Linked DNA regions of Homo sapiens: region 2 is linked to region 1. Evidence: fine-mapped expression QTL. A gene starts in region 1. The other region holds a variant in brackets. All regions are shown on one strand. Distances are from middle to middle. Region 1 holds the start of CLCN4 (chloride voltage-gated channel 4). Region 2 overlaps TBL1X (transducin beta like 1 X-linked).

Evidence for each region. PIP is the estimated chance that this variant, and not a neighbour inherited with it, causes the effect.
Region 2: its variant is fine-mapped to the expression of CLCN4 in lymphoblastoid cells (GTEx, PIP 0.94).

What each region holds. Positions count from the first base shown.
Region 1 is chrX:10,155,377-10,158,298 of GRCh38, forward strand. CLCN4 (chloride voltage-gated channel 4) reads left to right here and starts at 1,599. Exons shown (of 13, transcript NM_001830.4): 1 at 1,599-1,724; 2 at 2,913-2,922.
Region 2 is chrX:9,639,640-9,642,561 of GRCh38, forward strand. It overlaps TBL1X (transducin beta like 1 X-linked), which reads left to right. Exons shown (of 18, transcript NM_005647.4): 3 at 634-721. Among named protein-coding and RNA genes, the nearest start is that of GPR143, 120 kb to the right of the region's middle. The variant C/T (reference allele first, on the strand shown) is at 1,654.

The DNA.
Region 1 (2,922 bases):
AGACAGGGTGAGACCCTGTCTCGAATGAACAAAAAACTCAAAGGTTATTATTCCGTAACTATTGAAAGAATCTTTTCATGAAGGATGGTAATAACCAGCTTTCTATCTCCACACAGAGCAAAGTAAAAAGAAGTAGGTTTAAATGGAAGAGAAATTAAAACTGGACATACAGATGGTTAAATATTAACAACGGCCCCTGAATGGCACTTTCTTTCCTAAAGATCTTCATGAGCAGAATAATCTAGGATGGCTAGGGATTGTTCCCTCGGGACTTTGTGGTTAAGAATTCAGGATCTTCAAGTAATGAAATCTGCATTAAAAAATTAGCCAAAACTGTTTGTTTATTCCATAATCATGTCTATATGGTGCTTTTAAGAAAACAATTTTTTTGTTGCTATAAAAGCAATACATATTCACTGTGGAAAAATTAGACGATATCTCTAAGCTTAAAAGAAGAAAAATTTAAAACACCCTTAATCCCACTAACCAGTGAGATACCATGTTTGATACTTTAGTGAATTCATTTCCTAATAGTTTTCTGTGTTCGCAAAGGTATATGTGTAGATATAAATATATTACACCTACATAGAAACGACGGATCACTCAGCACATAATGCTTTGAAGCTTCCATTTTTTTTCCCATTTAATCCGCTGCACATGTCTTTTTCCATCCGTGTGTACCACCGTATTAGTTTTAATTCTTCCACTGCACAGATGGCTTATAATTTAAAACATCCCCTGTTTTTGGAGATTTAACTTGTTTCCAGTGCTTTGAGATCATAAGTAATATTGCAGCAAACTTTCCCTAGTCAGGGGTTTGCACACCGTTCTTCCCCCCACCCCCACTCCCCACACCCCAGGACAAATTCTTGGACATCAAGTTGCTGGAGCACATGATACCAACAGCTGTAGGGCCCGGAGTAATTGGCGAAACTGTGTATCTGTAAGGCATTTGGTAGGAAAAATGCTAAACAGACCACCAGAAAGATTGCTCAACTTACATTCCCATGGGTGGTATTGGTTTTTGCTTTTTTTGGTTTTGTTTTTTAATCTTGGCTAAAATGACAATTTGAAAGGCGAGGGTGGAGGGTGTTCAGACAGCTCTCTCATTCTGTTGAGAATTGCTTGGCCCAGTTCTGGGCCTTGTCTGAATTGCCGGTTTGCTGCAATGTTTTTTACAATTGAGCAATCACCTAGAAAAAAGAGAAGGTGAAACTAACCTACTGCAAAAAAACTGCTCCAGGATGAAGAAGGTTGCCTGTATTTCGTCATTTCAGCCAAGCCGGAATACGGAGCAAGGCTGTCTGCACCGTGCTACCATCCTCTTCAGGCTGCAGGGCATTTTGTATACCCACCACCTCCCATTGATGCTGGAAAATCCGGTCACAGAATTCCGTGCAGCCCAGCCCCTGAGGGTGGGGCGTCCTGTCTCCGGGACGCCGGGTTTTCTCTGGACACGAATGCTCCGGGGGTAGGAGGCGAATGACACTGGCACGGCGGGGCTCCGGAGCCAAGAGGTGACCAGGCTGGCTGGGCAGGGCTGAGTGGCTGGGCCGAGCACGTGATGCTCCCAGCCGGCCTCCGGGGCCCTCCGGGCTGAAATCGACATTTGCCTCTGGCAGGAAAATGAGCTTGTCAGTTTCTGCCTCCATTAGACCCTCAACCCAAAGGAGCAGGAGATTTCGGTAGCGTTTTAACTTTATCTCAGAATCTGAAAGCGGAAGGTAAGCTGCTTATCACTCAGAAAAACAAATTTGAGAGGAGTGACCTAGTAAAGTACACTGCGACTTTGTTGATTTTTAAAATCTGGTGTTGAAAATAATTGATCGCTGTGAGAGTCAAGGGCTGTATTTATCCCCAAATTAGAGATTAACCTTCTGAACAGAAATTTGGTTAATTTGGAGGGAATCACGGTATAAGGGCCAGGGTTAAATATAGAAGGACACGAAAGCTGATGGAATAAACTGCAAGTAAACTTAACTCTAGCCTGCTTGTAAAACAATCTATTTCATGTCTCCTTCAGGGCTGTGAGCAAAGGGAATGTTAAAATTGTGATTTTTAACTCAAGTGAAAGTAAATGAATCTATTTGCAATTGGAATACAAATAAAAGCAGTCTTTGCTTTTGTCCTTTTACATTTCAAAAACGCTTGTGTATTTTGGCAAAAGAAAAGTTTATATGTGCACTGCTTAAGTTTGAAATACGCTATTTCAAATTTACAAAATTATCACAGTTGTAATTTTCTAAAGTCTTTCTAGGCAAGGCTGTTTCAGTTGTGAATGAGAAATGTTGACATTGTACATATTTTCTGTGATAGTAAAATGACTCACTTCTTCAGAATGTGATAAAGATTAGAAAATGTGAAATAATGAGTTATTGTGAATTAAGTCATGTCTCAGAGATTAAATGCCTTGCCAGAAGATGTAAGAAAACAGAGACACAAATACAACCATGCTCACGTAGCAGTGCTTTATTTTAAATCATCACATATTTAAGTAAGTAGTAGAAATACGTGGTGTCACCATTTTTTCCTTTGGCAAATACAAATTAATATTGGAATGCAGCTATTCAGAGTAATTAAAGCATTATTCATCCGTGCAATTAGTATAATGTTCCATAATGAATTGCTTTGAACTAAAGTGTTTGGTATAATACTCGATATACGGCTTGAAACATAGAAACTCTAGGCAAAGTATGTCCATGCTATATTTTGTGTCATTTTGATTTGCACAAAATGTTTATTTCTCCACTGCATTTGATAAATACTAGTTTTAAAATAAAACATGAAATTGTATTTCCTTTCACTGTAATCCCTTTATTGCTAATTCTTTTGAAATCCTATTACTCGCTTGGAGCCTGTAATAATTTGGATTTCTCCTCCTGTGTGTTGTTTTTCATAATTCTTCGCGAAAGGCCAGGCAAG
Region 2 (2,922 bases), 520 kb before region 1:
AATGAAAAGTTGAGACGTTAGTGGGTGCCTTTGGTTTTCTTGATTTTAGAGGAGCCGGAGGAGAAAGGATTCTGACCCGTTTGTGTGTTTTTATGAGCACAGTACATGAGGATGCATATATGCACACAAATGTGCCTGGTAGAGTTATTGGAAAGCTAGCCCAAGCGATGGGGAATGTTTAGCTAAAGCGTGTTGTCTTCTCCCGAGGGTGTGCACAGGTTCATGTATCAGCTGAATAAGGCCCTGTTCCAAAAACTGATATTTCAAGGGAACCTTAATTTATCTTTAAATTTAATGTAATTTAAAATTAATTTAAATCTTTAAATTATCTTTAAATAATAGCAGTAGCAATAGCTGAGCTAACATTAATTTTATCTATTTTGAGACTCTTTTATTTCAGAACTTCTACATGCATAATGCCTGACCGGCCACTTTTAATTTCTCCTTTCTTTCACTTTGCAAACAAAACCTTACAATCTGTGCTATGGACTAAGACAGAAATTAAGAACCAATAAAATGTGTTAAGTTTTAATTAGGAAGAAGAAAAAACCTAAAGGAACGGGATGGTTGAGAGGTAAACACACCCCAATGATTTTTAAGTCTTTTGTTTCAAACCTTTCCCTTTCTCCCTAGGCTGGTCCCTGCAGACGGCTTCCCATTTTTATGACCGGATGCTGGGAAGCCTGCTGGTCCACAGGTCCATACATGAAGTCACCATAAGGTAAGCAGCCCAGCATGCCATTGGATCCTTGCCCTTGTACCTGAAATCCGTTTGAGGAGCAGAACTGCATTTTCCCAAAATGGAACCCCTTCTGTTTTAAATGATGTTGTCAGGGGAAGTGCCCGGTCTTTCTCCTTACTGAAGGTTGAAGGTAGTAGACAGACAATCATTAAATCATTGCGAGCTGCATAGTCAATTCCAAATGAGAAATTTGCCTTTTTACTGACTTCTGAGAATTTTGGGTTGTGTTTTTGTTTTGTTTTGTTTTGTTTTTGTTTGTTTGTTTTGAGACAGAGTCTTTGCTCTGTCACCCAGGCTGGAGTGCAGTGGTGCAATCTCGGCTCACTGCAACCCCCGCCTCCCAGGTTCAAGCGATTCTCCTGCCTCAGCCTCTCAAGTAGCTGGGATTACAGGCACCTGCCACCACACCTGGCTAATTTTTAAAATAGTTTCAGTAGAGACAGGGTTTCACCATGTTGTCCAGGCTGGTCTCGAACTGAGCTCAAGTGATCCGCCCACCTTGGCTTCCCAAAGTGCTGGGATTACAAGTGTGAGCCATTGCATCTGGCCTGCCTTCTGAGAATTTTGGATCCTGAAGGAGCTATAACAAATTTTTCTGGGTCTTACCAGGCGAGGATGACACCTTCTAAAATCAACCTCTCTTGTCAACATTATCAATTACAATTATGCAGACAAGTTAATTATAATTGGGTGCATGAGTATAGATTTTATTTGGCTCCTATATCTTAATTCTATGCTTTATCAGTTTCTTAATATGATTTGTGTCTGTCTCCAAATTGATTTGCTAGTTAACTTTGAAACTTATTAGAAAATCATGGAGATTACTATGTGTAAATCTGGTGAGATGCTAAGGTTTCCTGACTAGCACACCAAACAATTGTATGTGCACAGGTGTCAAGAGTTGAGAAGCC[C/T]GTAGCCCAAACTAAAACTGAGACCCATGCCCCAAAAGTTCTGTAAAAGTTATCTTACTACCTTTCGGTACGTGTGATTTTAATTTCACTTTACTTAATTGTTATTTAATTTTCTGTTTCTTTCTCTAATGCCTTTTTAGTTAAAAAAACAAACAAACAAACCTGTAGAACTTGGGCAGTTTTAAAGTGTAAAGATAGAATTTTGAGGAAGCTTTTTGATTTACTATTTTAAGAGAACCAACTAGAACTAAAATGATAGACTTAAATTTAATTAAAATAAGCAGCTTACTGTTTGAGGTACTTTTGTTTAAAGCCAGACATATGCATATGTAGGTTGTTTTAACAAGTTAAATATGTATAAGTATTTTAATGAAAGGTGTAGTCTGTTTATAAAAACAAAATTTGTAATGTATTAGTGAATTTGAATTTTCTGACTGGCTTTTTCACTCAGTATAATGTTTTCAAGGTTCGTGTGCATTGTGGCATGTGTCATTTCTTTTTATGTCAGAATATTCCATTGTGTGGCTAGACCATGGATAGAACATATTTGATTCATGCATCAGTTGATGGAAATTGGAGTTGTATTTCCCTTTTGGTTATTATTAAAAATGATGTCATGAACACACATATACAAGTTTTTTTGTGTGGACATATGTTTCATTTCTCTGTGGCATTTACTTAGGAGTGGGTCATATGGTACCTCTGTTGAACATTTTGAGGAACTGAATTTTTCCAAAGTGGCTGTTACACCAGTCAATATTTTTCGAAATGCCATTGAACCATATTTTAAATGTCAGAGGGAAGCAGGGAGGGGATCTTTCTCTTATCAATGTTTTGAGTGGGTATTAGTTCAGTACTTTGGGAACATAAGCTTCAATTTCATTGAATCCAGCACACATTGGATTTCTCCTCTGCGTGAGGTATCTGTGTTTGGCTTTATACCTCAGTCATTTATACATGACTGAGTGTTTTTGTAGCCTTTGATAACTTGTATGGTTTATACATGCAGATAGTCATTTGGCATTATCCTCAAAAATGGTACTCTATTGCTGTAGTTCATTAGTAAGGTTGGGAATAACCTACATAACATACTCTTTCTGCCTATGCTGCGTGCTGCGTCTCAGAAAGTGAGGGCTTCTAACGGTTTCCTTGAGGTGTGTGTGGTTTCAACACATGTCCTCCTTTCAAAGGCATCCATCGCAGACCCTGGTGATAGTGTTTTTTGTATCTCAGTCTTAAAGGGGTTGGTATGGTTATGAGGAATGTTCA